Linked DNA regions of Homo sapiens: region 2 is linked to region 1. A link means that fine-mapping ties the variant in region 1 to the expression of a gene that starts in the linked region. Tissue or cell type: whole blood. Region 1 holds a variant in brackets; the other region holds the start of a gene. Each region is shown on its reference strand, or each on the opposite one. Region 1 overlaps SAMD3 (sterile alpha motif domain containing 3). Region 2 holds the start of MYRF (myelin regulatory factor).

The links. PIP is the estimated chance that this variant, and not a neighbour inherited with it, causes the effect. A credible set is the group of variants that fine-mapping cannot tell apart.
Region 2: MYRF starts here. The variant in region 1 is the best candidate, but not a certain one, in a credible set for the expression of MYRF in whole blood (TOPMed, PIP 0.52).

The regions. Positions count from the first base shown.
Region 1 is chr6:130,152,359-130,164,484 of GRCh38, reverse strand. It overlaps SAMD3 (sterile alpha motif domain containing 3), which reads left to right. Exons shown (of 12, transcript NM_001017373.4): 9 at 9,460-9,660. Among named protein-coding and RNA genes, the nearest start is that of SAMD3, 65 kb to the left of the region's middle. RefSeq lists an enhancer at 11,220-11,840. The variant G/A (reference allele first, on the strand shown) is at 6,913.
Region 2 is chr11:61,746,790-61,756,830 of GRCh38, reverse strand. It overlaps MYRF (myelin regulatory factor), which reads right to left and starts at 4,195. Exons shown (of 27, transcript NM_001127392.3): 1 at 4,041-4,195. The coding sequence starts at 4,086. MYRF-AS1 (MYRF antisense RNA 1) reads left to right here. Exons shown (of 4, transcript NR_026882.1): 3 at 1,135-1,196; 4 at 2,386-2,802. It overlaps DAGLA (diacylglycerol lipase alpha), which reads right to left. Exons shown (of 20, transcript NM_006133.3): 20 at 9,830-10,041. RefSeq lists enhancers at 1-70, 71-716, 1-779, 7,083-7,944, 8,805-9,666 and silencers at 4,046-4,145, 4,266-4,405.

The DNA of each region.
Region 1 (12,126 bases):
TTTGAGGATCAGGCTAGTCCTACCATCCTCCCTTGTGGTTTTACAATCTGTGTCCTTGTACTATCTTTAGCGTGGGGAAATATATGAGAGTTACTGCCATTTGTTGTAATAAGAACACTTAGAACATAGGAAAAAATGATTTTGCTTTAAGTAAAAACACCTAGTTTTCATTTTTACAGCTAATTTATTTGAAGATTCTTTCTAAGCCCTCAGTACTAGGAATTGATTGTCTCCTTTGTGACCTTAATGTTAAGGACATTTCTCTAAGTCTGAAACATAGAGGAAAAAATACCTAACATTTTGCCGCATTCTGATGTGAAATATTCTATCAAATATATACTGGAACAACATGGCAATTTCTTTAGAGAGGTTAACTTGTGCCTCTTTTTTTTTTTTTTTCAACCTACTTTATGTGTAGGATACTGATGCATGGATTTGATAAATGCTTTTAGGATGTTCTTGTATTCCAAAGCCTTCCACATAAACTACCAGGTGTTAAATTATTAACACTATACCTATAATTCATTTCTCTCTTAAAACATTTTCTTTTCCTACTTATTGGGTACATATATACCCTATAGCTTTGAAAGCTATGAAATAGCTTTGTGTGTTAGATTTATTTGGCTTGGAAATAAAATAGAATTAAAGTTGCACAAAAACTACCTAGTGAGTCAAATGTTAAGAATATTTACTAAGTTTCTTTGGATTTATCTTACAACACTTACTGTTGGTTTTTTACTAGGCCTGACACATAATGATTTATTGCATAAATACTAATTATTTTATAGCCTTTTCCACAGATGTTTCTCTCATGATAGAAAATTGAACAAGACAGCAAAAGTTGAAGACAAATCTTGACAGTTAATTTCATTCTACATAGAGTGCAATTACTGTCATTAGCAGGTGGCATATTTACTAATACTGCGAAGTTTTACAAGTAAGCTGCACACTTGGAAACATGGGGCAAGGTTGCATGGGTGAAACTCTGCCTGCTGATTGACTGAGACACATGCCTGAATGCTAAGCTAAGCTACTGTTCAAGTTCCATAGGGGGTACATCATTTCCAAGTCAACACTTGACGACAATAGAATTGGAAATGAGGATGACTGGGATTTGGTATGAGGAAACACCTAGTATCTAACACAACACTGTCCAATAGAAATATAATATGTGCTGCATATGTAGTTTTTAATTTTCTAGTAGCAGAAATTTTTAAAAAGTGGCAAATGGAATTAACGTTAATAGTATATTTAACTCACTATATGCAAAATATTATTTCAACATGTAATCATTCTTAAAAATTTTTAATGAGATATTTTACATTCTTTTTTTTTGCATACTAAATAGTTGAAATACAGTGTTTGCACTTACATTTCAATTTGGGCTATCTCTGGGGGAAAAAGAAAAGCCAGGTTCAGTGGCACATGCCTGTAGTCCCAGCTACTTGGGAGGCAAATGCAGGAGGACTGCTTGAGCCCAGGAGTTAGAATCCAGCTGGGCAATATAGCAAAACCCACTCTTCTATTAAAAAATAATAAAAATGACAATTAAATTTGTTAAAAATTAGAAATATCAATTTGGGCTAGTCACATTTCACGTGCTCAGAAGCCACATGTGGCTAGTGGCTACCATACTGGACAGCTCAGACAAATACACCCCTTGGGTAATTAGAGAATAAGTGAGATGACAATTTGCAGAGAACACTATAGTTAGCCAGGAGTATGTCCAGTTACTTGCTGGTGATGTTCAGAAGCTACAGTCCACAATCTTAGGTATGAAACCTTTATTTACATAGTGCCTTTAAAGTAGATTTTTCATAGGGTATTTATAAGAATTATTCAGGGACCAGATGCAGTGACTCATGCCTGTAACCCCAGCACTTTGGGAGCTGAAATGGGAGAAAGCCTTGAGCCCAGGAGTTCACGACAAGCTTGGGCAACATGGCAAGATACCGTTTTCTTAAAAAAATTTTTTTAAAGAGAATTATTCCATTTTCATAACAAGATACTCTCTTTGTAAACTTTTTCAGATTGTGGAATATAGAACAAAGTTATCTTTATAAAAGTCAAGATGAGTTTTTATTCATTTCTGGGAGATAAAAAAGCTATAACTACATTTTTAACCATGCCGTCTTACTACTTCAAAAGCAGACTCATTCTTCTGTTGAAATCAAACTTAGAAATATTCTCCTCCTTATTTCTGCTCCAGCTGTCAGCTTAAACTAAAAGTTGGCTAGAACTATGCTCTGCTATTACAACCAACTCTGTGAGAGCTTAGGTTACTGTGGTGTTGGAGTAGAGAGACCACACTCTATGTTGCCAAAACTGGTGTGGTAAAGGAAGCATAGCATACGCTCTTTATACAATTTGTTTGGCTTTAACTCAAGTTAATGTTCTGGTTAATTTACGCTGATTCCTCTAAAGTCACACATCTCAAAGGTGAGTCCTACACTTCCCTTCAGTGTATTTCTTGGCCTGAAGTGATCTCTTTCGTGCTTCATGTCTACTTTCTTTGATTCCTCCTTGAGCACGGCCCTCCATTAACTTTGTCTGCTGAGACAGACATCTTGAAGTCAACAGTCAGCAGCTGTTTCCAGCTGCTGTTCTGTAAGATTCAGACATTTCTTACTCACTAGTTGCCTCATTTCAACGTGCACTGTTAAAGAAATCAGCCTGTTAGAGAAGTGAGGAAATACCCTAAAAGAAACCTGCACACCTGAGCATCTCTGTGCTTGGAAAAGTCACTTCCCCTTTGAGGGTCTCAATTTGCCCATCAGTAAAGTGTGAGGCATGGACTAGGTGGTTTCTAAGTTCTTTCCAGCTTTAATAATATATAAATCATTAACAGTATATCTAACAATATATAAATCTAACAATATGTAAATCATTAAAATGGTGAGAATTTTAAATTCTGATGTAGCTTTTTAATAATTAGGAAAATCACTTCAGTCTAGAATACAACCCACCAACACTGTGTTAATCCCATCAGTCTGATCAGGTGGAAGTTATCTAGAAACTTTATTTTCATGATTGGGTAAGAGTTTTGGAGGAAGTAGTACATTATAAATACAGTAATATCTAAATGTCAATATCAGCAATTATATAACTTCTACTATATTTCAGTAGATGAAAGAAAGCCATTTAGATAATTAAAACATTTTTTCTGTACTTTAAAAAATTAAAATGTTTTCTTACTTAAGAAATTGTCATTCTATGCATTTGAGACATACAGAAGAAAAACTACATACGTAACATATATGTAGTTTATGAGACAAAATAAACACTGTTAACTCAGCATTTAACTTTAGAACTAGAACACTGCCTGCACCATTGTGTGTGCCTGAGTTTTCCTCCCCTCTCCTGTCACCTGCCTTTCCAACACCACAGGCCTCTAGAACTAATCACTATTCTGAATTTTATGTTTATCATTCACCTGTTTTAAAAATAAATGACATTGTCACATATGCATGAATTCTTAAGGGATATATTGCTTAGTTTTGCTTGTTTTTTTTTCAAGCACATATTTTATTTGAATAAATCCTCTGTAGTCCATTTTTATGTTCAACAGTTTAAAACATATACAAACAAAGCTTGAAAGTAAATGAAGATCTGACATATCTGAAGCTTAAAGATTTTTATTTTTCTTTTCACCACCTTCCACATTTTACATTTGAAACTCCTTGGCTTCGTTGACAATCCATTATCCTGGTTCTCCTGCTCCTATAATTTTCTCCCTTTCTATATATCTAAATCTAGATAATTTAAAAGAAATATCAAATCTCTATCTCTGCATTCACAAGTTTCCTAGCTATTCTTCCAACCTCAATTAAAAGATTTCATCGCCTTTAAGTCCCAGCTTTAAACCCTGGCCGTCTATGGTTTTCCACAATCTTCAGATTTGCTCTGCTAAACATTCCCGTAACATGCTCTGCCCTTCCTGTCTCTCCACCCAGAACTGTCCTTTCTTCTTTCAAATTCTATTATCCCTTAAAATCTGATCAGTTCCTCATCTTCCACGAATTTTCCTTCACTACCCCAGCCTAAAACAAATTCTAGTTTTGCTTGTTTTTAAGGTTTACAAAATGATATGAAAACTATATGTTGGCTTTGATAAGTTCCTTTTTTTCAATCAATGTAATGTCACTGGAATTCATCCAGGTTGTTCAGTTGAGTGTAGTTTATTCGTTTTCCTGTTGGTTTAATCTATTGTGACAGGCAACCAGTTTATTTGGCTCTTCTCTTCTTAACGGATATTTGATTTGTTTCCAGTGTTGGCTGTTATGAACTATGCTGCTGTGATTATTCTTGTATGTGTGTCTTGAAGCATATGTGAAGATTTTTTTCAAGGATTTATACTTAGGAGTGGATTTGCTGGCTCACTGGCTCACAGGGTGTGCAGATATTCAACTCTGTAAGACAGTGCCAAATTATTTTCCTGGATGATTAAGCTCCCTGAGCAGCACTCGTTAATCATCTGATTTCTTTTCCACTCACCCCACCCCCATGCAATGCCACCACCCCACTTCCAATCTATTGGGAATACAATGGTACTGTGTTTGGCTTCCATTTTAGTTATGTATGAGGGTGATCATCTTTTCATATGTTTATGAAATATTCATGTTTCCTCCTCTGTAAAGTGTCTGTTCATGTCTTTTGCTTATTTTTCTATGAGGCTGCCTTTTTTTCAATTTACTTGTAAAAATCCTTTGTATATTCTGTATTCTACTCCTTTACTAATTATATTTGTTCCCAATATCTTCTCACAGTTTGTGCCTTGCCTTTTAAATTTCTTTCTGGTGTCTTTTGACAAGGAAAGACAAGGTTGCAATTTTAATGTAGTTAGAGTTATCAATCATTTGTCTTATGATCAGTGCTTCTGAGGCAGGAGAATAGGGTCTGAAGGCAGGAAGCCTAAGGCCAATTTGCACCAACTTCCTCGAACTGAATCAAAAGGAAAACCCCAACTTTTCATGCCCAGGTAACAAAAGGACCAGAGGCTACTCCCTTTGCAATCTCCCACCCGCCTCTGTGTGGCAGATGAAAAATGGAAAGTACCTCTGTATTAGTCTGTTTTCACACTGCTGATAAAGACATACCTGAGACCGGGCAATTTACAAAATAAAGAGGCTTATTGAACTTACAGTTACACATGACTGGGGAGGCCTCACAATTATGTCAGAAGGCAAGGAGGAGAAAGTCACATCTTCTGTGGATGGCAACAGGCAAACAGAGAGCTTGTGCAGAGAAACTCCCGTTTTTAAAACCATTGGATCTTGTGAGACCCATTCACTACCATGAGAACAGCATGAGAAAGACTTGCCCCCATGATTCAATCATCTCCCAACTGGTCCTTCCCACAACAGGTGGGAATTATGGGAGCTACAAGATGAGATTTGGGTGGGGACACAGAGCCAAACCATATCAACCTCTGATTGGTCCCCTCTTGCAACCAGTCAGACTGGTAGCAGGCCTAGTCTTCATTTGCATTGGGATATAACTTTGTTACTTCACTACTTCACTTCAGCCTCTGGTCCCTTCCCACAACCAATCAGACATTTGCATAGAGTGTAATTTTGTAACTTCAGCCACTGATTGGTCACCTTCCACAACCAATCAGACTGGTCGTGGGCCTCTCCTGTATTTACATAGGGTGTAAACCGAGTCACCAGTGGGAAACCACTAGAGGCTATTTAAAACCCAGAAAATTCTCTTGAGCAGCCAGCTTGAGCCCGCTCCCACTCTGTGGAGTATACTTTTGTTTCAATAAATCTGATTTTTGTTGCTTCTTTATTTCATGGCTTTGTTGTGCATTTCTTCCAATTCTTTGTTCAAAACGCCAAGAACCTGGACAACTTGTAGTCAAGGCCCTCCACTGGTAACACTTTTAGGAAATCCTTTCTTACCTTGAAGTGATAAGAAATATTTCTATATTTTCTTTAAATTTTTTTAAGTTTTTGCTCTTAAAATTTAACTTCTTAAGCCATATGGGATTTTTTTTTTCCTTATGGATAGAAAATTTTCTTGCACCTTTCAGAAAATAGTCATTCTCTTCCTCAGATTCGTGATGCCATCTCTGTTGTTTCCATGGCTCTGTGTCTAGAAGCTCTGCTGTTTTCCGCTAGTAAAGTCATCTATCCCTGCATCAATACCAACTTCCTTACTTACATAGCTGTAAAATGTCTTGATACTTTCCCATCACTGCTTTATTATTCTTTAAGAATGCCTTGGTCATTCTTGAGGTTTTTAATCTTTCAAATGAGTTTTAGAATCAGCTAGTCAAGTTCTGATAAAAAAAATTGTGGTTTTTGATAGGTTTGGGATTTTGACAGAAATATTGAATCAGCAGCTCTACTTGGAGAAAGATGACTTTCTTACAATATTGAATCTTGCTAGCTGTGAACATAATAGGCTATCCATTTATTTAAGTCTCATTAATATTTTATAGTTTCATAATTTTCTTAAAAGTCTTCCACATTTTTTGTTAGTTTTATTCCTAGGTATCTTATAAGGTTTTTTTTGCAATTTAATTTTTTTTTTTTGCAAAATATAATTGTAAAAAATTGTATTTTCTATGTTAGCGTATGTTAGAATATTTATCTTGTATTCAGTTGCTCTGAAAAACTCAGCTGTAACAAATTACATATGCATGATTTTAAGTTTTCTCTTGAACAATCACATCATCTATGAATATTGACAATTTCGTTTCTATCTTTTCAATTTTTATACCTTTTATTTTCCTGTCTTACTACTCTGACTAGAATTTCAGTATAGGCTGAGTAAGAGTTTAATAAAGCACCTTTGTGTTGCTTCTGATTTTAAAGATTATTCTTTTAAAATTTCACCATTAAAAATCATATCTGTCAGGCGTGGTGGCTCATGCCTGTAATCCCAACAATTTGGGAGGCCAAGGTA[G/A]CAGATCACTTAAGCCCAGGGGTTCAAGACCAGCCTGGGCAACATGGCAAGACCTGTCTCTACAAAAAATACAAAAATTAACCAGATGTGGTGGCATGGCCCTGTAGGCCCATCTGTTGGGACAGTTGATCACTTGTGCCTGGAAGTTTGAGGCTGCACTGAGCTGTGATCACGCCACTGCACTTCAGCCTGGGTGACAGAGTGAGACCTTGTCTCAAAAAAAAAAAATATGTTAGCTCTAGGTTTTTGGTATATAACTTTATAGGTTTTGAAAATTTCTCTTATTTTGACAAAAGTTTTTTTCTTTAATCATAGAGGGATATTATAAGATACTTTTTCTGCGTTATTTGAAATGGTCATGTTTTTTCATCTTTAATTAGTTAATTAATGCAGTATATGACGTTTACACATGTTTAGATAATCCAAGTAAAATTATGGAACTGTTGTAATTTTATTATTTATTTATTTATTTATTTATTTATTTATTTATTTATTTATTTTTTGAGACGGAGTCTCACTCTGTTGCCTAGGCTGGAGCACAGTGGCACCATCTTGGCTCACCACAACCTCTGTCCCCCAGGTTCAAACGATTCTCCTGTCTCAGTCCCCCGGGTAGCTGGGATTACAGGAATGTGCCACCACACCTGGCTACTTTTTTGTATTTTTAGTAGAGACAGGGTTTCACCATGTTAGCCAGGCTGGTCTCAAACTCCTGACCTAAGGTGATCCACCCGCCTCGGCCTCCCAACATTTATTATTGTTTTTGTAGAGATAGAGCCTTGCTATGTTGCCCTGGCTTCTCTCAAACTCCTGGCCTCAAGTAACCCTCAGCCTCAGCCTCCCAAAGTATTGGGATTACTGGGTGTGAGCTGCTGTGCCCAACAATCATACTGTTCATACACCACGTTTCTCAAAACCTACCTCTTTTCTGCCCCGAATCTTTCTATAACAGTGGCCCCCAAACTGAGATTTTAGTATGATAGTATGTGAAACGTAATGGGTAAATCAATCATGTTTTCTTTTAATTTGCTATAGTTCCCTTACCAATGTCAAACTACCCTTGAGTTTCTGAGGTATAATAAATTCAAGTTAGTTGTTCCTTGTTTCTAATATCTGCAACTTTGTTCATGAACGAGAGTGACTGCACTTTTCCTTTCTTACACTGTTCTTTCAGGTTTGGGGATCAGTGTCATAGAGGCTTCAAAGGATGGGTTAGAGAGTATTCCTTTTTTTTCTTTTCTTTTTTTTTGAGACAGTCTTGCTCTGTCTCCCAGGTTGCAGTGCAGTGGTGTGATCTCGGCTCTGCTTCCCGGTTCAAGCAATTCTCATGCCTCAGCCTCCCAAGTAGCTGGGATTACAGGTGCATGCTACTGTGTCGGCTAATTTTTGTATTTTTAGTAGAGGTGGGGTTTCGCTATGTTGGCTAGGCTGGTCTTGAACTCCTGGCTTTAGGTGATCCTCCTGACTCGTCCTTCCAAAGTGCTGGGATTACAGGTGTGAGCCACCATGCCTGGCCTCCTTTCCTTTTTCTTGAAAAATTTTGCATAAATTTGAACACTCTGTTTCAAAAGTTAAGTAGATTTTGTCTGTAAAACCCTCAAGTCTTTCTTGGTATTTTCTTTGTGGAAAGACTTTTATCTTCCAACTAAATTTGTATAAGATTATAGGAACTTCTTCTTAATTTTGATAATTTTATTTTTCTAGGCGTTCCTTCACTTGGTTTAGGTCTTGTTAGTCATTCTGTGTTCACAGAAAGTAGATCTACTGAGGCTTTCCTATGTGCTTGTAAAAGCCTTGATATAAGAGGATTGTAGATTCCTTATCACCTTTTTCGTCTTTTATAGGTATCATCTGTTCACATTCTGGTCAGCTAGACAGTTGATCAACTTTGATTTGCATGCAGTTCAGCTGACTGTCCTCTTAACTCATATTTCTAGAAAGATATTTTTCTTATTTCCTCAAAGCTGATTGTCTTAGATTTTCAACAAGAATAAGTGAGGTGTTTCTTAGCTGCCCCCACTCCGCCCAACGTACCCAGTTGTATAGTGAATAAAATTATTAGTTTAATGATTTAGCATCAGAAAATAACCACTGTTATTATTTTGAATTTGGATTATATGGCATGGTACTGCAGCTATAAAAAGGCATTTAAAAAGAAAAAAGATAATAGTAATAACAAAACCTTAATACTTTTAAAAATATCTTCTTAACATTTTATCTTCTAAAATTGAAATGCATAGAAATGAGCAACATTTGATTCAGTGGGAACCTTCTGGATAATCTGTCTCTATATAAAAGGATAACGTAGGAATTAAAGTAACTCTTTTAGATCTTTCAAGAGAATAGATTATAATTCCATGATAAGTAATTAACTATCTAATTTATTGTCATTAAAGACTGTCCATTTATTAGTTATGCTCAATGTCAAGTGTAACCAGGTATGGTGATACTCACCTTAGGAATGAGTTAAGAGTGTGCAATAACAGCCTGAAATTCAAGTTTTTATAGAAACATGGAATCCATTGATATGTTGAAAATGTTTTGCAGGAAGAAGCTGTTTGTTTTGATTCTGAGCTAGATGAACATATTAAGTGGTTCCAGCAAGAATACGTGAAAACAGAAAAGGACTGGAGAGAAATTGACAAGAGAATGAGCCAAACTTTGGAAATAAGAAGAAAGATGATTGGCAGCCGAACACCTCTGAAGGACATTCTTAAACTGTTTCCTTTCTTGAAGTGCCCTTATCAGGTATCTTTATTCTATATATATATACACACACATATATATGTATATACACACACACACATATTTTAATATTATATATACATACATATATATATATATATATATATATTTTTTTTTTTTTTTTTTTTTTTTCAGACAGAGTCTTGCTCTGTCGCCCAGGCTGGAGTGCAATGGCCTGCGATCTCAGCTCACTGCAACCTCTGCCTCCCAGGTTCAAGCGAATCTCCTGCCTCAGCCTCCTGAGTAGCTGGGACTACAAGTGTGTGCCACCATGCCCAACTAGTTTTTGTATTTTCAGTAGAGATGGGGTTTCACCATCTTGACCAGGTTGGTCTTGAACTCCTGACCTCAGGTGATCTGCCTGCCTTAGCCTCTCAAAGTGCTGGGATTACAGTGTCCAAATGGATTTTTCCCTCTTTCCTCTTGGAGTGGTAACAGGACAACATAGCAAGACAGTGGGGGTGAATCTCAGTGGGGTGTGAGGCCCAAAGGCTGCAACTAGAGCCATTTGATAGGAATTTCAGGAAGCAGACCCTCCCCACCCACCCTCTTTCCTAACCATGAAAAAGGAAAAATTAAAAAAAAAAAAAAAGAATTTCAGTAGCATATTCAGATAATAGGCACCAGCTGCCTTCAGAACTAAAGAGTTCTCTGTCATTGGACATATTGTGGAGGGTGGCGGATCATCACTTAGGGGTATTTTGACAGTGTGAATCATTATTCCCTTTCATGCTTTTATGTAATCAAGGTAGTTTATTAAGGAACTGTTATTATGCATCCTTAGTAAAAATACGTTTCCTTTATGATCCCAAATAATTTCATAAGTGTCCTTAAATATATATGAAATTTAGGGCCAGGCATGGTGGCTCATGCCTGTAATCCCAGCACTTTGGGAGGCTGAGGTGGGTGGATTGCTTGAGCCCAGGAGTTCAAGACCCGCCTCAGCAACCTGGTAAAACCCCATCTCTACTAAAAGTACAAAAATTACCCCAGCTTAGTGGTGCGTGCCTGTAGTCCCAACTATTCTGGGAGGCTAAGGCACGAGGATCACCTAAACCTGGGGAGGTCAAGGCTGCAGTGAGCCATGACTGAGCCACTGTACTGCAGCTTGGTGACACAGTGAGACCCTGTCTCAAATTTTAAAAAATAAATAAATAAATAAATATATATATATATATATGAAATTTAATGGGTAAATCAATCAAATACCCTTCCATTTAGTTCACTTAGAGTGGCCATTCAAGGTTCTTTCACAATTTTAGTGTAATTTTTGGTGGTGGTATATAATGAAAGATCATCAAAGGTTTTACCCGAGAACATATTTCATGGAGAAATTCTATGTATTCAATTAACCAAATTAAACATGAAACATCTACATATTTTTCTTCTGAGCAAAGGGAAATAAGAATTGCCTGTATTATTTTAATAGAAACATAAGTAGCAAATATCTGAATGCTTCTCTGTAACAGCATGTTCTCAGTGCTTTCCACGGATTAATCTACCTAATCCTCTCAGCAACCATACTGTGGCTTTCGCTTGTTTCCCCTTAATCTTCAGGTTGTAAGGAACTGTAATAGCCAGTCATCTCTGGCTGTTAGAAAAGTATGCCAAATGGACACATCTGCAAAATACAGTTTTAAAGCAAAAGCCTGTCAAACTTACGGTCTATACACTCCTTACATGTAGGGAGCACGTGTTAATATTAACAGTTCCCAAAGTGCCTAGCAGAGCACCACGTGTGACACAGCAATGTAATCTTGATTTTGTGAATGCTGAGTGAATTAGTGGAGGTTGGTAAGGCTGTTGTGATCACTAATGTCGTAGCCTTAGGGGTCTTCATTGGAGTGTGGCCTACAAAGGCTTAGTGATGAATATAAATGGACTATGTTAAGCAGCTTTTCAAAGAACCATTGGTGACAGTAAGGTGGAGGTCTGTCATAGCTTATGTGAGGAGCAGAGAGATTTCAGACCTGATGCTGTCCCCTGTGCTTTTGTCCAGGCCTCCTGCTGTGGCATAGGTGTATCTTCCGCACCATTCCTCAAGTATTTCACCCTTTATATCCAAAATATGGAGTATGGTTTTTGTAATGACTGTACTTATTGAATAGAGTTGCCTGTTGATTGTTTTATTTATTTATTTATTTATTTATTGAGACAGAGTCTTACTTTGTCGCCCAGGCTGGAGTGCAGTGGCACAATCTTGGCTCACTGCAGCCTCTGCCTCCCAGGTTCAAGTGATTTTCCTGCCTCAGCCTCCCAAGTAGCTGGGACTACGGATGCACGCCACCACGCCTGGCTAATTTTTATATTTTTAGTAGAGATGGGGTTTCACCATGTTGGTCAGGCTGGTCTTGAACTCCTGAGCTCAGGTGATCCACCTGCCTCAGCCTCCCAAAGTGCTGGGATTACAGCTGTGAGCCACCGTGCCCGACCTGATTGTTTTAGACAAAAGAACGAATCATTTTCGGT
Region 2 (10,041 bases), not on the chromosome of region 1:
AAGACCCCAAGGAGCACTCTGTCCAGCCTTCCAGTCTCAGGAGAGTCCCTGAGGCCAAAGGGTTGGTAACTGCCTGTTTCTCACCCCTGCACTGACCCCAGGCCCTCCAGAGAGGTGCTTTCTGGGGTGCGTCCCCCACCCCCGCCGCCTCTGTTCACATACCCATTGTTGTCACCATTGACCCGGAGAGCACTTCCTGCCCACCCCCCACCCCTGCCCTGCACTGGGTGCTGGGGACATGGGGATGAGTCAGACCCCCTACTACCATTTCCTCCCCTGCCTGGGCTCAGGAAACCCTGTGCCTGGCCACCCCTCCCATCTACTTACTCCCTGGGTGCACCAGGGACAGACAGAGACAGGCTGACACGGGCCACAGTGCCACCCCCATCACGAAGCCCAGCTCAGCCCCCGGATTCCTGTCCAGGTGGGAGTCCTCTCTTCCAAATCATCAGGTAGTCTCTACCTGGGACCTCCTCCTGCCCTCTGGAGGCAGAGATGTTGGTCCCTGACAGGTAGCCCCCTCAACCCCAAGGTACTGGTGGCAGAGTAGGGAGCTGGGGGCTAGGTGTCCACTCTGGCTAACTCTGGCCAACTCCCTTCTCTCTGAGCCTCAGCCAGCGCCATTCCCCTCCCCTTACCCATCCCACAGCCGGGAAGGGTGGCTTTCAAACCAGTATCCTGGTGCTTCAGGGGCTGTGAGGAGCCCAGCCCCCATTATCCACTGTATCTGTCCTATCAGGAGACTATGAGTTTGTTTGATGGTTAAAAAATCACATTGGAAGCCCCTGCTCTGGTCCAACCCACTTACTTACCCTGGGAGGGGAATGAGGCCAGAGAAGGAAGTCACCAGTCCAGCCACCCATCAGCTTCAGAAGGGGCGAAATCCCAGGCCTCCCTCCTCCAGCCCTGGTGGGGCTCCAGAGGCCGGGCAGAGGCCCACTAAACTCCAAGTGGTCTTTCCAGCACCTGCTGGAAGGCGACTTCCCTCCATCCTCCAAGGCTCCCTGCACACCCACCTGCTTTCTGGGGGACACTGGTTGCTCACTCGAGCCTCATGTGCCCCTAGAATCTAGGGCCAGCAGGCACCCCTTCCAGGCTCGGCCATTCATACTCTAACATGTCTCTCCTTCCCAGGGCTGGGCAGTGAGCTTCTTCAGAGCTGAGGTTCTTCTCTGCCACCCCCTCCTGTCTTGCAGGTGAGGAAAAAGGACTTAAAGAGGGCAAGAGCTCTTTGGGGGTTCCCTGCCAGGCACAGACGGTCACCCCACTCTCAGTGGTCCAGCCTGCACCAGAACTCTGAGGTCCTGGCAGGATTCTCAGACACTGCCCTGTCCCGTGCCTGCCCTGGCTCTGGAGTCCAAAGCCCCCTTATACCATGGCCCGGTTACCTGCTGGAAGCCAGTGCATCCTGCCCGGTGGGTCCCCTCTCTGCAGGCCCTGTGCCCGCCGATCTGGGCTGCCTTGCCTCTCTCTAGGGGATTAGCCGGGCGGTCACGGGGGCCCGGCTGTACCAGCCTCGAGGGGGCCGCTCTGTCCCGGCCTCCCACCTGAGGTCCAAAGCGCCTTAGCCCCCAGCCCACCACCGGCACAGGGCAGGACCCAGCACCTATGCTTGGTGTGTGCCCAGGGAGGGGGACCACGTCAGGTGAGGGGGCGCGCTGTGCTGCAGCCCCTTCGGTAAAACCCTTTCCCAGTCTCCCAGCCCAGAGCCGAGAGCACAGGGACTGCTACCCACTGTCCAGAGGGATGACCAAGGCCAAGTGGGGACCAGGATGAGAGCTCAGGTGTCCCCAGCCCCAGCCCCGAGTGTGACAGCACTCAAGAGTGACGCAGCCACGGCTCAAAAGCACAACTTCCCGCTCCCTCGCACTTCACACACTCACAAGCACACCAGGCCCTGCCACTCCCAGGCCTTCTCTCACACCTACAGTGGGTCCCCCACATGGGCCTTCCCCTCCCAAGTGGCCTGGAGACCCTAGGCCTCAGGGGCCACCCACACCTTCCCCCATCGCAGGGGCTGGGAGCTGTTTCCAGCCCAGCCCTCCTAGACGGGCAGCCTCACACCCCTCCCCTGCTCCCCACAGACATTCTTGAGTCTCCTCTTATCTCTCTGGAGGGAGTAGCGCAGCCTCCCCCCGCCAGGCCGCTGCATGGCTAAGCCGTGGCGTCAGCCCCCACCCCCCAACCCATGGTCAGGAGGGAGCCAGGGAGTCCAGGCCAGCCAGGCCCACCCCTCTGCTCTCTGTCAGGGCCCAGCGTCCTGGGGCAGGCAGTGTGGAGGTCAAGGGAGCCTGGCCTGCGGGTCCTCTGGGTACCTAGCAGGCTCAAGGCACTCCAGACAGTAACCCAAGCAAGCACGAATGTCTGGTCCCCTCTTCCCTGAAGGTCTCAAACCGCGTCAGGCCCCTCGAGAGCTCCTATGGATCAACAGTGTCTGGGGAGAGCCAGAGCCCCGGGACAGATGCAGGGCTGCCTAAGACCCTCAGATGGCCCACCTGATGCAGAGTCAACCATTCAATCTAGTCCAAGCCTGAACTCTTGGGTTCTGGGTCTGTGGGGTGTCCAGAATCCTGGAGTGGGATGACTGAGGCTTAGGGGTGCCCCTGCCTGGGCTGCTCAGCCAGCAGGTGTGAACAAGGGTTCCTGCCTCCCAAGTCACAGAGGGAGAGAAACTGAGGCACCGGAAGACCTGCTTCTCTCCTCCACAGGACTCCACAGGAATCTGGGGCTTGAAACTTGGGCCTTGGTTCCCTGCCCTGTAGCCCTGATAGGTTCACACATGAAGGGAAGGTTCTCAATGCACCAAGGAGCAGGATGTGGCCTTAGGGACTAGAGGGAGCTCGGGGCAGGGGCTGGGCTCGCTGCATTGGTAGACAGGGGCACAAAAGGGGGCCAGAGGGTCTGGCTAGATGTTCCAGGGAGGTTCTGAGAAGCGGAGTGGGCTGGGAGGCAGTCAGCCAGAACTTCCCCTCCCCCTCCCACTGCGGTCCCATCCCTCCAGAACCCAGCACCAGGAGGAGTGGTGGCCCTGCAGGAGGGGCAGGGGTCGTCCAGGAAAAGACAGGGAGTTGGTTAGATGGAGGAGCAGACCTCCAAAACCAATGTAGGGGTGGGGGCAGAAGAAGATATTATGGGGTGTATGTCAATTCCACCCCAGAGGGCTCCTTTCGGTCAAGTGGGGGTGAGGTCACTCTTTGAGGGGGCGAGGTCAGAGAGGCACAGCTCCAGGGTTGGGGGGACATAGTGCTGAGGAGCCTCAGAGGGCTGGTGGGATGCAGTTCACAGCACTAGAAGGGTCTCAGAGAGCAGAGGTGACCGGTGGCAGGGATGTCAGCTTCAAGAAGGTTCCAGCCCCAGGAGAGCATGCTAGGGAGGGGGGTCCCAGCCCCAAACAGGAGAGCAGTCACTAGGCAGCATTGTGGAAAGCAGGTGGCAGTCTCCAAGGGGATCCAGGCTCGAAAGTGGTCCTACCCTCATGGAAGCACAGTGGGGAGGTCCCAGCTCCTAGAAGTCATGGGGGATGGCGCCAACCAGAAGGGCACACAGGGGGTCTTGGTCTCTAGGCGGGGGTCACAGATTCTGGGAAGCAGGCTGGGGTCCAGCCTCAAGAGGTACGGAAGGTCCTAGAAGGCACACCGGGGGTCTGGGCCTTGAATGGGGTTGTATCCCGCTTGGGGTTCTGGGGAAGCAAAGTAGAGGGTCCCCAGACTCGGGAAGTTTGCTGGGGGCGAGAGTGTCACAATTTAGGGAAAGTTCCGGGTCCTGGAAGGCTCAAAGGAGTCCGGACCTGGAAGGGGACACAGTCCCAAGGAAGCTGCGAGTTGAGGAGCGGGGAGGGGGAGCCCAACTTCAGCGGCGGTGGGTGGTAACCGCTGGGGGACTCCCAGCCCCGGGAGCCTGTCTTGGCGGGCTGGTGCCAGCCTGAAGGAGGGTCCCAGCCAGAGGAGGCGGAAACACAGCGAGGAGCCCCAGTTCCCGGGGAGATCAGCCGGGGGTTCCCAGCGCCAGAGGGTCGCCGCCGCCAGCCCGCGGTCTCTCACCTTCGAAGAAGCGCTGCAGCGCCTCCGTCTCGTCCACCACCTCCATGTCCCGCCTGCCCGGCGCACACTCCAGCCGCGGCCCCGCTACAGCCCGGCCCGGGGGCGCGGCATCGCCGGCGCGGCCCGCGCGACAGTCCCGGCTGGGCTCCGGCTACGGTCCCGCCCGGTCCGCCGCCGCGCTTGCCCCCCGCGCGTCCCTGGCCCGGCCCCTGCCCGCCCCACGCGCCCCGCCCGCCGCGCCCAGCGCCCCCTGCCGGCCCGCGCCGCGCCCAGCCCGGCCGCGGGCACCACGCTCCCGACTCCTGCAGGCGGCGCTCAGCGCTGGGCAGTCCTAGGCTTGCGGGGCGCGGGGCCGTCCCGGGTCGGGGGACGCGAGACCGTCCCAGGCTTGAGGGGCGCGGGGCCTTCCCGGGTCGGGGTGGGGGCGAAGGGCCGCTTGGCCTCTGTGGGGTCGGGACTGGAAGGGTGTGCCCTCGCCGTCCTCGCCTTCGTCTTGCACGGGACAAGATGTCACGATTCCGAATCCAAACCTCAGAGACAGCCCCCATCCCTCTCGTTAGCCACCCACACACCCCGCTCAGCAACAATAACAACCTGCATTTAGGGAACGTGTGTTATGTGCCAGGCCACACAGGCATTATCTCATGTACTCCTCACAGGCACCTTATCAAGGAGATGCTGTTGTTACCTGCATTTTACAGATGGGGAAACTGAGGCTCAATGCATTAAGGACTGCCAGGAAGCCCTGTCCTGTGGCTGTGATGATGGAAATGTTCCCTGTGTTGTTCAGTATGGTAGTCACTGGCCACAAGTGAGCACTGGAAATGTGCCTATTGAGACTGAGGAACTGATTTTTTCATTTTGTTTAATTGTAATTAAACAGTTACGTGTGGCTGTGGTATTGGACAATGCAGGTCTAAAAGCTCCTTTTTTTTTTGAGATGGAGTTCGGCTCTGTCGCCCAGGCTGGAGTGCAATGGCGCGATCTCAGCTCACTGCAACATCTGCCTCCTCGGTTCAAGCGATTCTCCTGCCTCAGCCTCCCCAGTAACTGGGATTACAGGCGCCACCACGCTGGGCTAACTTGTATTTTTAGTAGAGACGGGGTTTCCTCATGTTGGCCAGGCTGGTCTCGAACTCCTGACCTTAGGTGATCAGCCCACGTTGGCCTCCCAAACTGCTGGGATTACAGGCATGAGCCACCGCTCCCCGCCCTGCCTAAGAGTTTCAAGGTCATTAAAGTTCAGAGCCAAATCCTGGCTGCCCCGGGAATCCGAACTCTCCTTTGCCGTGGCCCTGTCTGGTATAATGAAACCTGGAGGTTCTAACTCGATATAAGTCCAGGATAAAGCGGTTGTCCTTGTGCCCCTGCCTTCACCCTTATGACTGACTGCCTCCACATCTCTGTCCTGCCCAACTTGCACAGCCTCTCGTCTCACTGATATCCCCTTCAGTTCTCCCAAATCACCCTTTCTGAAACATACATCCGATCATGTCATTCCTTTGCAAAACTAAGTTTCCCTTTGCACTCAAAACAATATCTGAATGTCTTGCTCTGGTTTCTCAGGCCCCGCCTCTACCACTGGCCTCAGCTCTTCCCCTCTCTCCATTGCTCACTGAATAACAGCCACCAAGACCTCCTTGCCATTGCTCAAACATGCAAGGCCTACACCTGCCACAGGGCCTTGGCACATGCTATTCCATCTGTTTACAATGCTTGTCTCCACATGGCTACTTCTTTGTAGCAGTTGGTCTCAGCTCAAATGTCATGTCCCCAACCAGCCTACCTAAAGCAGTTCTCCCTACCTAGGCCTTTCTTGCTCACCATGTAAAAGATTCCTATTTAGTTTCTGTTATTATCCTTCTTGCTCTAGAATGGAAGCCCTACGAGGGCAAGATATTTTTCTGTATCGGTCACTGCTATAGCTTCAACACCAAGAACATGACCTGGCACACAGTAGGTGCTCAATAAATGTGTTGAATGAATGTATGGTGGCATCTTCAAACTACCGAATCCAGTCAGGCTCCAGTGGCTCACACCTGTAATCCCAGCACTTTGGGAGGTTGAGGCAGGAGGATTGCTTGAGGCCAGGAGTTCGAGACCAGCCTGGGCAACATGGCAAGACCCTGTCTCTACAAAAAATTAAAAAATTAACTAGGCACGGTGGCACATGCCTGTGATCCCAGCTACTGGGGAGGCTGAGGAAGGAGAATCGCTTGAGCCCAGGAGGTTGAGGCTGCAGTGAGGCTGCAGTGAGCCATGTTTGCACCACTGCACTCCAGCCTGGGCGACAGAGCAAAACCCTGTCTCCAAACACAAACAAACAAACAAACAAAAATCTACAGAATCCTGGACCTCTGAAACCTTGGGAGCGGATAATTCTGGAATCCCAGACCTAGAGAATCATCCCGCTTCAGAGTGGCTCAACTTGAAGCCTCTCGGGACCCTTCAAGGCAGCACGTAAAAGCTGGAAAAACCTACCCCACCCAACCACTGTTTGACAAGCCACTAAACAGAGGCCAGAGGTGTGGGGGACTGCTGGCAGATCAAGATGCCAACGTAGCCAGCTTCGGACTCTCACCTCTGCCTTGCAGCATCCCCAGGGAGGGTGGGGCACAAGCCAGGCCACCCCGTGGGGATGGGGTGAGAGGCCTGGAAGCCGCTCCCACCCCAGCCTCCCTGTCAGTTCTCAGTGGCCAGCCGTGGGGGAGGGGCAGCCAATGCCTGAGCCCCAGATGTGGCCCAGTCAGCAGGCCCATGGTGGCCCGCCGAAAAGGGTCAATGCCACGACAGTTCTGGGGTTGGGGGAGGGGGTGCTGAGGCCGGCGGGTGCCTCACAATGAGGTTTTGTCCCTCTGGGGGCCGCTCTCAGAGCTGTTGCTCTTAGATATATAGAATGGGATTTTGCTGGAGGCCCCAGCTGTGTGTGCTGACCGCAGCTCCCTCACCGCCCCCGCAGGGGCTGGGCTGAGAGGGGGGAGAGGGGCCACACTGAGACTCCTATTCTTTTCCAGCTGATACACCCCAGAGGTTTTTCTCCCTCCGCAGACTCCCTTAAGACAATTGTTATTCTCCACCCTGCCCCTCCTCCACCCGGGGTCAGGCCTGCCTGCGGACAAAGTAGACACCCGCCTACACCACGCGATTCTGAGAAACGGATTTACATTACGAGTCGCCTGGGACCAGCCACAGAACCAGCTTCTCTACAAGCCTCCACATACCCACGGATCTTTCCTCCGTATCCCACATACTGCATAACTGACCATCATCTAAGTTCTCACCACCATCCGTTGAGCTACACATTGTCCCTGTCCTGGTCAGCAAGGGCTGGAGGTAGAAGGGAAGACTCGTACTTTGTCCCTAACGCCCCAACTCCATTGCATTATAATCAATTAAGAGTATAGATTATTCAATCTCTAGGGTAGCCTTGAAGTTGGAAGGGGTGGAATGGAGCCTCCTGTTAACCCTGTAGCAGCTGACCTGGCTAAGGGAGCTCAGGCCCTGCCATCTCCCCTGTTACACTAGGTCACTGAGCAAAGGAGCAACTGTCCCCAGGGATTTTCATCTCTGGACTGGAGGAAAGAGGTGGCTGAAATGTCCCAGACTCAAGGGCTCAGCCAAGAGTTGAGGCTGCCATCTGCCAACTCCATAATGAAGTTGGGTCCCAAGCAGCGCTGGGGCAGAGGCTGGGGCAGGAAGGTGGCTGGGCCGGTGAAAGTAGCCCAGGGGACTTGCATACAAGGACCTAGGGGGGCCCATCAATGGAGATGAGTCCTCATCTGTGCCCCTGGCTTCTCTACCGAGCCACAGTGAGTGAGGGGCTGAGATTTCAGCCCTAGCCCAGCAGACATGGCTGTCCCCTGTAGCCAGCTCCACCTAGTCCCCAAGGCCTGCCCTCTGTCCTCAGAGGCCTCATCTATAAAGCACACTCAGTATCCCTGCCTTACAGTGGAGGTAAAGTGCCAGGTCAGTGATCAGTAAATGGTGCCCTCTCCAGTTCCAATCAGCTCTCAGCACCCATCACTGTCCCTTGAGTGGGAGCAGGGCCAGGAGGAGGTGGTAGACCGAAGGCAGCACTGGGGAGAGGGATGCTGGCACCTGAGGGTTAATGGGTAATGGGCGTAGAGGCCAGCCCAGGAGAAGGTACAGCCCTGTCCTCCCCACCGTGGGACTCTCCTGGCCTCCTGTGGACCCACACAGCACTGGCATCAGGCCATTTCGCAGAGGAAGAGGAGGGCTCAAAGTGGGGTGAGTGTCAATCCAGCAAGCCAGTGAGGCTGGTGGTCCAGCTTCCCCGGACTAGGGCCCAAGGGCACACCTGAGTGTGGGGTCCTGCAGGGTAGACCCCTTCCTGACTGCAGGGGCACCGGGACAGGAGGGGGCTGCTGCAGGTATTGAGTGGAGCGTGAGGCAGAGTGCCTCTCTAGCCCTTCCCAGCACTGCCCTCTCAAGACCCTCCCCAATGCCACACCCTGGCTGCAGCCCCGGGCAAGCCACAGAGCCTCCCTGGCCTTCAGTTTCTTCTGCCTGTGCTGTGCTCACTGGACAGGATAATTTGCAGACCATTGAGACCACTGAGGGCAAAGAACCTCTGAAAGCCATCAGGTGTGGTGGAGGCCAGAGTCCTAGGCTGAGAGGCCCTGATTCTGGTCCCCAGTCTGTCCCCACCTCCCATGCGACCTTGGGCAGGTCTTCACCCTTGTTTGGCCCGTTTCTGCTTCTGTTCAGTGGCTGTGGGTGAAGACAGGCTCTAAGGCTGGGGGCATTCTTCTATCACTCTCCCCAGCCCCTCACCAAATAGAGCCACTGGACACTGGGGGCCGAGATGGGGGCAGGGTCAGGGGAAGGGAAAGGTCCGGTCAGCTTGGCTGGGTCAGTGCCGAGGCCAGACTCTGCGGCCAAGGCGGGACTGACTGGCTGAACAGCGCCACCTGCTGTGTAGAGGGGGCAGGCCCCACCACCTGGGCCTTCCAGCCACTCCCTAGGCCTCACTGCCCGGAAGCTATGCTGGCCTGGGGTTCCTGGGCTGCACTGGGTCTGGCCAGGTATTTTGCGCCCTCTCAGGAAAGCCCTCAGCAAAGACTTCTAGTGGCCCCTGCATTTCAGTGCTGTCCCACTGGGATCTTCCACCCCTGCCTGCCCTAGCTGTCTGCATTGTTGGGGAGGGAGGTGGGCATGGTCAGACTAGCCTGGTCCCCCAGTCGCCAGCTTGGCAGTCTTGGGCAGCTAATCCTCTCAGACCCCTCAGGGAGGAAGGGGAGGCCAGCAAGCTGTATCTTTCCAGGCTGTAGTATGAACGTGCACCCGCTGGTACATCTCTCACACAGGCAGGACTCCGCAAGTGGCTGCCCTCATTCACAGGGGGCTTCAAGGGTCTTCTACTCCCTCCCTGCAACTCAAAGTGTGGCCCCGGGCCAGGGCACTAGCCGAGCAGGAGCAGGTAAGAAATCTATACCTGGGCCCCACCCCGGACCACTAAACCCGCACCTGCATTTAGCAAGCGCCCCAGTGAGTCATGAGCACCGTGAACTTTGAGAAACGAAGTTCTAACCCAATACAGACAAAGGGCTGGACCTGAACCACCCAAACACACCCTGCGTCTTGTGGGTGAAACGGGCTCTGGTCCCAAGGAATCTGTTTCCCCCTTAGGCTTTCTGTTCCATCCAGGGAACAGTGGCAGAGGCCCCCCCGGCCCCCGGCCCCATGCCAACCCCCTGCTCTGCTGCAACCTCGACATCAAATTTCTACCCAGTCCCCACCTGATGCAAAGACATTCGAGGCAGCCAGCGTGCTTCTACATCCAGTTTATACACAGCTCTATACAATATACAGAAACCTTTATATACAGATATATTTATAGAATAAGCTATATTAATTTGTCTCTCCTTTTTACAGCAATATTAGTTTGGATCTTTCATACATTAAGTACAAAAAAAGTCTGGGGAGAATGGCACGTAAGAGAGTGCATGAGGGTCTGTGGGGCCCGGCTGCTCGCTACTGA